Linked DNA regions of Homo sapiens. The protein of the gene in region 2 purifies or fractionates together with the protein of the main gene of each other region. This does not show direct contact. Each region holds a gene or a part of one and is shown on either strand. Other genes may lie near its edges.

Region 1 (4,528 bases), on a different chromosome or scaffold from region 2:
ATCTATCAATATCATGATAACCACAGGCACAGCCAACACATGTGAAGGGGCCACCTTCCCCATCCGCATTTTATAGACAAAGAACCTGAGCCCAAAGAGAGGAGGCAATGGGCCCAACTTCACAAAGAAAGTGCCAAGAATGCTTTGCACTTTTGCAAAGATTGGTGGTTTGAGTTCACCAAGATTCAAACACAAGGGACTGACTCTAGACCCCTGCGTTTACTCCCCAGGCTGTAAATGTTAAGGTAAAATATTCTGATGGTATAGGTTGAAATATAAAATGTACCATGTGACCCATGCATTCTACTTCTAGAAACCTACCGCCCCCCCAAAAAAATGCCATGTAGAAGATACATACGTGTCTTTACTGACTTGAACCTTTATGTAAAGTCAGTAAAGACCCATATGTATCTTCTTCATGGCATTTTTTTTTTTCGAGACAGAAGGTAGGTAAAATGACATGTGTCACTTTGACAAAGGGTCTCACTTCGTCACCCAGGCTTGAGTGCCGTGGCGTGATTTCAGCTCACTGCAGCCTTGACGTCCTGGCCTCAAGTGATCTCCCACCTCAGCCTCCCAAGTAGCTGGAACTACAGGTGTGCACCACTGCACCCAGCTAATTTTTTTGTATTTTTAGAGATGGGGTTTTGCCATGCTGCCCAAGCTGGGCTGGAACTCCTGAGCTCAAGGAATCTTCCCACGTTGGCTTCCCAAAGTGCTGAGATTACAGGCATGTGGCACCTCACAGAAATCCAGAAAGCGGCAACAGCCTAAAGATCCACCACTGGGAAGAGAGGTGAACAGACCATGGTATATCCACACAATGGACTACCAAGCCGCTGGTAAAAAGACAAAGACAGATCTCTAAGCACTGATGGGGAGTGATGTAATTGATCAATGAGGTGAAAAAAGCAAGTTGCAGAACAATACACAGCAGGGAAAAAAATCCCAATTCATATCCATAAAATAAAACAAAGTCTCTCGGTGAGTTTTAAGGTATTTATTTAAACATTAAGAACATTTAAGAACCACTCCAAACTAGCAGTAGTTACCTCATGATTTTAAGATTGAGGCCAGGCGCGGTGGCTCACGCCTGTAATCCCAGCACTTTGGGAAGCTGAGGCAGGCAGATCACTTGAGGTCAGGAGTTCAAGACCAGCCTGGCCAACATGGTGAAACCCCATCTCTACTAAAAATACAAAAATTAGCCGGGTGTGTTGGCGGGTGCCTGTAATCCTAGCTACTTGGGAGGCTGAGGCAGGAGAATCACTTGAACCCGGGAGGCAGAGGTTGCAGTGAGCTGAGATCACATCACCTCACTCAAACCTGGGCGACAGAGCAAGACTCCACCTCAAAAAAAAAAAAAAAAGATTGAAGCGTTGGCAAACTTATTAGTTTCTACTTTTAACTACTTCAGTCTGATCTGACATGTTTCCAGAAGCCTGTGTTTTTTCCTAATCCACTCAGTAAACTATGCAGCTCATGAGTATTTATGAGCTTATAAATATTTAAATGAAGAGTAGAGACATAATATTAGATGTACAGTCTGATTAAAGCCAAAAAAAAAAAAACATTTAAAAATACTGGAAGGAAGTAAATTTATTTTGATCCTATTAAAGTTGTGAAGAGGTGATACTTACGGACACTTTTCACCACTCATTTTTTTCAAATATTCTGTGGATATACTTCTCTTCATAATAAAAATTAGAATAAACATAAAAATTATGAGGCATCTGTCAAGAAGTTGATGTATCAACTGCCATTACATAAAAATTAGTTTTGCTGTTATCCAGAAAATGTAAACATATTCATGAAATTTCTATTTTTACTGGAGATTTCTTTTTTAACCAGAAGTCCATGTTCATTATTTTTAAAATTAATGTATAAGTTTTAGTTTACAAGTATATAAAATTTTATGCAAAAAAGTAAATACATAAGCACAAATTAAAATTACCCATAATTACACCACCTAAAAGAATAACTTCTAGCCAGATGTGGTGGCTCTTGTGTGTAATCCCAGCACTTTGGGAGGCTGAGGCGGGCAGATCACCTGAGGTCAGGAGTTCAAGACCAGCCTGGCCAACATGGAGAAACCCTGCCTCTACTAAATGTACAAAATTAGCCGGGCATGGTGGCACATGCCTGTAATCCCAGCTACTCGGGAGGCTGAGGCAGGAGAATCGCTTGAACCCGGGAGGTGAAGGTTACGGTGAGCCAAGATGGTGCCAATTGCACTCCAGCCTGGGCGACAAGAGTGAAACTTTATCTCAAAAAAAAAAAAAAAAAGAATAATTTCTAATATTCAAGATGATGACAATGTATTATTGTTCTGTAAAATGCATTTTTCATTTAATTTACTATGAACACGTTTCCATTTCAATTAAAGAGGGTCTCCATCATCAATCTTAATGACAGTCTAGAATTCATTGTATAAATATTCCATAATCACTCTGCCCTACGCTTTAGTATTGAACAATTGGGTTTTTTGGTTTTTTAATTGTTGATTTTTTTCGGTTTCGGTTGTTAACATAAACAACACTGCAATGAACATCCTCTCCATGCTTCTCATGGAAGTTCTCCAGTTGTTTGCTAAAGATAAGTTCCTACAAAAACAAATGGCAGTAAGAGATTTCTTCAATGAGCATGTGTTAGATTTTTAATCGAAAAGAAGTAAGAAGGAAAGTTCAGAGAACCAGAAGGCTTCTGCATTAACTTTCTGTGCAGGGCATGTTTCAGGGACTCAGGGCCCCTTCCTTGCACCCTATGAGGCACCGCCTGTCTCTTGGGGCTACTTACCAGTTCATTCCTCTCATCTGCCAACAGCGTATTTCTGTCTTCCAGCTTCCGTATCACTGAATTCAGTTCAGCAATTTTTAGTTGAAATCGCCTCACATCTCGCTCGTCCATATGTTGATCCTAAAAAAAAAAAAAAAAAAAAAAAAAAAGTCAAGACGTAAATGTACTTTGAAGAAGTTGTGTGGAGCCTTCTTAGAAAATTCACATGACATAATGGGTGAGATCCTTATTCAGGGGCCCACATGCCACACAGCAAGGTGGGGAACACCCAAGCCCACTGCACACCTGCGGAAGACTCCATCTAGACGGCCACTGAGACTTCAAACCCTTCCGTGGCTCCCTGGGGCCCTTGTGGTCAGGCCCCTCCCACCCCGTATCTCTTACAAAGGCCGCCACGCACCGGCACCTCACACAGCGTCCAGCACAAAGAACTTATAACATCCCCTCCAATACTGAGTGAATGAATGAATGAGTGAATACATGCCACCTCAGAGTCCTCTGTGGCTGACCAGAAAAATGCCACCTAAATGGGTGGGGGACCAGCCTGAGGCTGGCACAAGCTGCTGCCCCTCACCTGGACGCCCATGAGCTCCACCATGTCCCCGATCCCGGGCGGGAGCTCTCTCTTTGGACTACTGTGGTGCCGCTCGGCCTCCTTGACCTGAACCAGCTGCTCATCCAAAGCCTCTTTCTGCAGAAGCAGCTTCTGGGTCTGCCCAGCCTGCACGCCAAGTTCCTTCTCCAAGGCCAGAATCACACGGTCTTTCCCTTTGATCTCATCCATCTGAAAAGGAGAAAGAATAAGCAGTCAGCCCTAGGGGCTCATGACCAAGGAAATCTCTCCCCAAATTGGGGCCTTCGGCCCAGGGAAAGGTCAAAGCAGTGTCTCGGGCCTGGGTCAACTGAATTCAGTAAACTCCAGACACAGAGCAAGCACAGCCCGCAGCCCAGGGCTTGTTCCCCGTCACTCCCACAAGACAGAGGAGACAGAGCTAAGGGTTGAAGCACATACATATTCAACCTGACATGCATACTGACATCAGTGTATGCTCCTGTCTCTCTCACTTTAATGAGATACAATAAAACACTGCCGGCCCCCAGCCAGGCCTCTGCAGCTCAGCTTCTTGGCAGAGCTGGCTTCTCTCTCCGTCTCCAGGACCATGTCTCCCTCTCAGTCATTGACCCTCTCCTGCCTGGCCACAACTCCCCAACCCTCACCACCAGACAGCTCCTGCCAAGGTCACCAGTGCTCTCCTGGCCACCGAACCCACCGGACAACGTTGTCCTCCCGCCCTGACTCCGTCACCCACTCCCAGACTCACGACCTCCTGCTCCCTCTCCCCAAGGCCACTTCCCATGGTTTCTATCTTCTTTATAGACTGTCTTGCTCTGGCTCTCATTGAAGCCTGGAGTTTCCAAGGCTCGGGCCTCTTCTCACTCTATATCCTCTCCCAGGCAGCCAGGTCCTCCCCGACGGTATCAACCCCACATATGCAGCAGATCTTAAACACATGCCTCAGCCCTGGCTTCTCTCTGAGCTCCACAATCACAGAACCAGCTGGCTGCCTGACACCTCTGCTTGGATCTCGGAGGGACCACAGCCTCTCCACGTACAAACCTGAACTTAATCTTCAGTTCACCCCCAGCCCTGTCTTGTCCAGCCTTCCTATGGGGGAGTGTCAGAAAGGACACAGGCTCAACACAGTGGGCCGGGTGACAGTGAGGAACCACA
Region 2 (5,556 bases):
TTAGCTAGTTGCTTTGTAGCCTTGATTGTGTAGTTGCTTTTATGGAGTCTATAGACTATGTGCTTATGTATGCTTTTGTGACAGCAAGTATTATTTTTTTGTTTTCATGTTTAGAACTCTCTTAATCATCTTTTATTAACCTTTTTCAGGGTTAATATAGAAATGTGAAGTTTTGTTCCTGTTGTCGTGTTGTTAGCTAGTTGCCTCCTAGTCTCAATTGTATAGTTGCTTTATGAAGAACATAGACTATGTGCTTAAGTATGCTTTTGTGGTAGCAAGTTTTATTCTTTTGTTTCCATGTGTAGAACTCCCTTAATCGTCTTTTATAGGTCCAGTCTGGTGGTATGCCACCACTTTAGAAGAAAGTGGAATTCCACAATTGATCATGAATAAGCCTTCTTGTCTTAGGAAGATATCGTCATTGTTATTTTATTATTCTTACTATTATTTAGGTTTTTTTTTTTTAACAGAAGTTTCGATTGTTGAATTGTATGGGAATTAACAGAAGTGTGTGACAGGTTCCAAAAAGTGGGGATATAACAAAAGTCCAAAGTAAAATATTCACTGTAAGCATAGCTTACAACTTAGCCTGGGTGTATTTTAAAAATTTTTATGTTTCCCTATTTTTCTCTCTCTGTTTTTTAGAGAGTATACATTAGTGTAACACATATCTTTATTGTATTTTGTATGTTTTCTTGAAATCTGGGATTAGAAGAGTCCATTACCATCCTAGACATCTAATAACATATCTTCTTGCCATATTTCTACTAAGGACCAACCTGACTTGAATTTTAAAACAAAAAAATGCGAAGCAATTGCAAACTAAGTGTGTTCTAAAAGCCTCGTTCATTTTTCCATGTGAATCATTTGAAGAAGATTGTATCAGTGAAGAAAGGGAAAAAAGTTTCTCAGTTAACAAAAGTATCTTTATTCTTTATATTAAAAGAAGATTACAATCTAAATTATTTCTCATGAAGTCTAAGGTTTTTGGTTAGGGAATGTAAGATGACAGATAATTCATATGATAGGGCTTTTATGATACATATACCATGCAAATGACCGTGGGGTTGTCATTGGCCATTTTATCTTGTCACAGGACAAATCCCAGGATACAGTCTTTCTGTCATAGTGAAAACAGAGCTTTTTTCTTGATTATAGCCCAGGTTTTAGTAGTATCAAAACCATAGTTTCTAGTTTTGAAATCTGAGTTACCCCATGAATGGGCAGGGGGCTGAGGTCACAGAGCCAAGAGGGCAGCTCTGGAACCATGGATCTGGGGCTGGGAAGCGTCAGTCCTGTGACTTTTGTTTCCAAGCTTGCTTTCTCATGCCTCTGCGGGCAGAATGCTCTCCGTTTAGGACCTGAGCACCGCTCCCCACATGGACGCCTTGCTTTTCCCTGCCAGAGAACCTGCACAGCTCCTCCCTGGTCTGCTTTGGATCTCTGTGGAGATGCATCTCATCAGTGAGGCCTCCCTGACCACTTAATCTAAAGAGTTTCCCCTACAACCATCTCTGTCTCCACATTTCCTATTCCCCTTCCCTGTTTTTTTTTTTTCCCTCCAGGCCACTTATGACTGTTTATTATGCCACATATAATTTACTTGTTTAATGTTGTATGGTCTATCTCTCCCACCAGAATGTAATGTTCCTTGAGGGCAGGGCTTGTGTTTTTTTCACTGTAGGATCTTTAGCACCTAGAATGGTGTCTGCATATTGTAGGCGTTCAGGAAATGTTTTTGAATAAACAAATGATGAATGAATTTAACGTAAAGTTCTTCCAACAGAAATTTTATATGACTTTCTAGTGCTCTAAGTAAGAGTTGAACATTTTTCTCTTATCTTTATTTGTAGAATGACAAAGGACAGATCCCTGCTGATGTTGTTCCAGACCCAGTAGATATGCCGTTAGAGATGGCTGACGCCGCAGCCACTGCTAAGGAAATCAAGCAGATGCTTCTAGATGCGGTGCCTCTGTCATGTAACATCTCAAAGGCCATGCTCCCAAATTATGATCATGTCACTGGCAAGGCAATGCTTACGTCACTTGGCCTGAAGTTGGGGGATCGTGTTGTTATTGCAGGACAGAAGGTACAGTAAGTAACTGCAATCTCTGAAGCCAGGGTTGTTATGTCCATGACCTATGTTCAAGGACACAGTATGGTCAGAGTTTTGAGTTTTTGAAAAAGGTTCAACATGTAGGTAGAAAGATGCTTAATGGAAAATGTAAAACTTAGATATGAATTTACTGTTAAGTTATGCTTTAAGAATATAAACTACTTGAACTTAATAAAGAAGACATCTTTATTTGAATAAAGAGTGGAGTGGAGTAGAACTCTTGAGTGAATTTAGAAGCATGAGCTAAGGGATGATCTAAGGTGGAGGATTATCTTTGCAGTCCCCTCTTTCCCCAGTGGTACTTCTCTGACTGCTGCTCCTCCATAGAAATGGAGCACAGGAGACCCTTGCTGTTCATGGGTGTTTGTCTTTGGGTTCCCACAAATAGGGCAGTCTGAGATATTATGTAACCTGGTGATAAGGATTTGTGTGGAAAAGAGGACTCCTACTCCCATCATCCAGACACCTTTTTTCCTCCCAAGCTTTTGTTTCCATATTGTATTCATTTATTGCCAGTTGCTTTTTAAAAATATCTCATATGGGAGGTTTTCTTGTTTTTTCTTTTTTTAATTATTTTATTATACTTTAAGTTCTGGAATACATGCACAGAACATGCAGGTTTGTTACGTAGGCATACGTGTGCCATGGTGATTTGCTGCACCCATCAACCCGTCATCTACATTAGGTATTTCTCCTAATGCTATCCCTCCCCTAGCCCTGTCCCTTCAGTTTTTTCTTAATATTGAGGTTAATAGGGAGCTTGGTATGGAGAATGGAACAGGGAATTCCTGCTTGGATATTGAGTTTCCCAACATAGTTATATCCCTTTTTTTTTTTTTTTTTTTTTTTGAGAAGAGTCTCACTTTGATGCCTAGGCTGGAGTGCAGTGGCACAGTCATAGGTCACTGTAGCCCCGAACTCCTGGGCTCAAGCAACCCTCCTGCCTCAGCCCCTGTAGTAGCTGGAACTACAGGTGTGTGCTACTATCCAGCTAATTAGGATTCTTATGTCTTCTTGGAAATTGACTCCCTTATTATTATTTAATGTTCTTTTTCATCCTTGGTAATGTTCCTGGCTCTGAAGTGAGAGCAAGGAACATTACCAAGCATAAAAAGGTAATGTTGAGAGAGCGAATTTTTAAAATTCACTTTGAGAGAGTGAATTTTTAAAAACTCCCATGGTGAAGTAAAGTTGCAAGAGTAGGACCCTTGGAATTACTAATAATTCCCCAAAATTATTCTGGTTTATATTTTCTTTAGGTTGGTACATTAAGATTTTGTGGAACAACTGAATTTGCAAGTGGGCAGTGGGCTGGCATTGAACTGGATGAACCAGAAGGAAAAAATAATGGAAGTGTTGGAAAAGTCCAGTACTTTAAATGTGCCCCCAAGTATGGTAAGGTTGATATTATTTAACTCGGTAAGAATTAATTAAAAATAATCAAGTTTTACTCTTTTACAGTTGTTAAATAAAACTTTTCTCCTGATTTCTTATGTGATAAATGAGGGGCATGTGGATGTAGGGAGGACTTTTTAAAGATAGGAGATAGTTATATTTATTTACACTGACGAGAGGCGACGTGAGAGGGAGAAATGGTGGTTGCAGGAGAGAAAGGGGACATTTCCAGGAGGAAAGTCCTGAAAAACTTGAAAGGGAAAAGGATTTCAGTATAAGAGTTAGCCTTGCATTAGATCAGGCGCAGCTTTCCACTATTTATTTATTTGTTTGAGACGGAGTCTTGCTCTGTCGCCCAGGCTATAGTGCAGTGGCTCGATCTCGGCTCACTGCAACCTCTGCCTCCCAGGTTCAAGCGATTCTCCTGCCTCAGCCTCCCGAGTAGCTGGGATTACAGGCATTTGCCACCATGGCTGGATAATTGTTGTATTTTCAGTAGAGACAGGGTTTCGCCATGTTGGCCAGACTGGTCTCGACCTCCTGACCTCAGGTTATCTGCCCACCTTGGCCTCCCAAAGTGCAGGGATTACAGGCATGAGCCACTGTGCCTGGCCAACCATGAATTTCAGAGGCCATGATGGAAAGGTTTAGGAGGGTGTCTGGTAGTGACTGGTGAAGAGGGCATCTGATGGAATTGTCTCAATGATGTTTTTGGGAAAGTGTCTTTCTTGGGACTGGTCTCTTGGGTGGCTTTTAGTGGGGAGACAGTGATGAGAGGGGTTTTTTCGTTAGTAGGCTGTGAGCTGTTGGGCTGCCCTTGATTCTTGCTGCCAGCAGTATAGTGATTGGGAGAAGGCCTCTGACCAGGGGCACGCCCAGCTCTGCAGACCTCCCTCAAATCCTGCACCTAGTAGTGTTGTGGCCAAGGGAGGGACTTGGTTATCAAGGAAGTACAGAGCTCTGGAGGTCATGAAGAACTTGGAAAACTGGAAAAATCAAGCAAGGCCAACTTTATGACCGCATTCCTGAGGTTTCTTTGAAACTCTGCGAGGTTTCTTTCTCTTTCTGACAAATGTTTAAGTAAATTCTGACAAATGTTTAAGTAAATTCTTTCTGACATGTTTAGGTAAATTTATTCTTCCTCTCTCTCACACACACCTATCCTGTCTATTGATTTCAATTTGATTTTGTAGTCACTTACTATGTTGTGAATACTTTTCCTTGAAATGAAATATTCTTTTAGAACATTGTTTTCCACGATTGTGTAGTATTCATCTTGTGGCCTGATGGTGAGGTGGTGTGGTATGATGATGATGATGAAGCGGATGGACTTTGGAGTCTGACTGCTTTTGTGTGATTCGATTTCTTTACTTACCAGCTATGTGACTGTCTTTCTCTTCTTGTGCCTCAGTTGTCTTCTGTGAAATAGGGATGACACTATCATAAGGACTAGTGCAAGAATTAAATGTGTTGGTAAAAGTATAAAGCACCTAGAACAGTGCATGATTCCCTGTAAGCACTCAACAGATGAGAGCTGTTGGCTATCACGCTTTTATCAAAATTAACTAGTTTCCTTTCATCACACACTTAGGATGGAATCTCATTTTTTTGGTCTATTAAAACTTTTTTTGTTTGTTTATAAAAATGCTGATTGTATAAGATTTGAAAACAAGAGGAAAGTAAAAATTCTGCATTTTTATTTAATATCCTAGTGTAATTTCCCCAAATCTTTACATATTGTTTGAAAATTTGATTTTGAATAGCTCCATTTCCTTTAATTTTTCCAATTTGACAGATGAAAATTTCTATATTTTAATTGGTATTTCTCTTATTGTGGTGAAATAGAACACTTTTTAAAGTGTTTTGTTGTAGTATAGGTATTTTTTATGTTTCTTGGCAATTGCCTGTTTGTATTATTTTCCCAGTAAAAATTGGGATATTAGTGTGTCTTTTTTAAAAAAGGATGAGTTTTAAAATACATACTTATGATATTAAGCTTTATTTATTATGGATATTTTGTCTAGCTTGTCATTTGCCTTTGAAC

What was found.
Region 1: the proteins of CLIP4 (region 2) and JAKMIP1 purify together in Homo sapiens (affinity purification with mass spectrometry; one large-scale study listed by BioGRID and IntAct). This does not show direct contact.

Annotation. Positions count from the first base shown.
Region 1 is NC_000004.12:6,082,050-6,086,577, forward strand, and holds part of JAKMIP1 (janus kinase and microtubule-interacting protein 1), read right to left. Parts: intron 3,581-4,528; coding exon 3,371-3,580; intron 2,917-3,370; coding exon 2,797-2,916; intron 1-2,796. UniProt on the Homo sapiens protein: Associates with microtubules and may play a role in the microtubule-dependent transport of the GABA-B receptor. May play a role in JAK1 signaling and regulate microtubule cytoskeleton rearrangements.
Region 2 is NC_000002.12:29,141,856-29,147,411, forward strand, and holds part of CLIP4 (CAP-Gly domain-containing linker protein 4), read left to right. Parts: intron 1-1,853; coding exon 1,854-2,090; intron 2,091-3,376; coding exon 3,377-3,512; intron 3,513-5,556.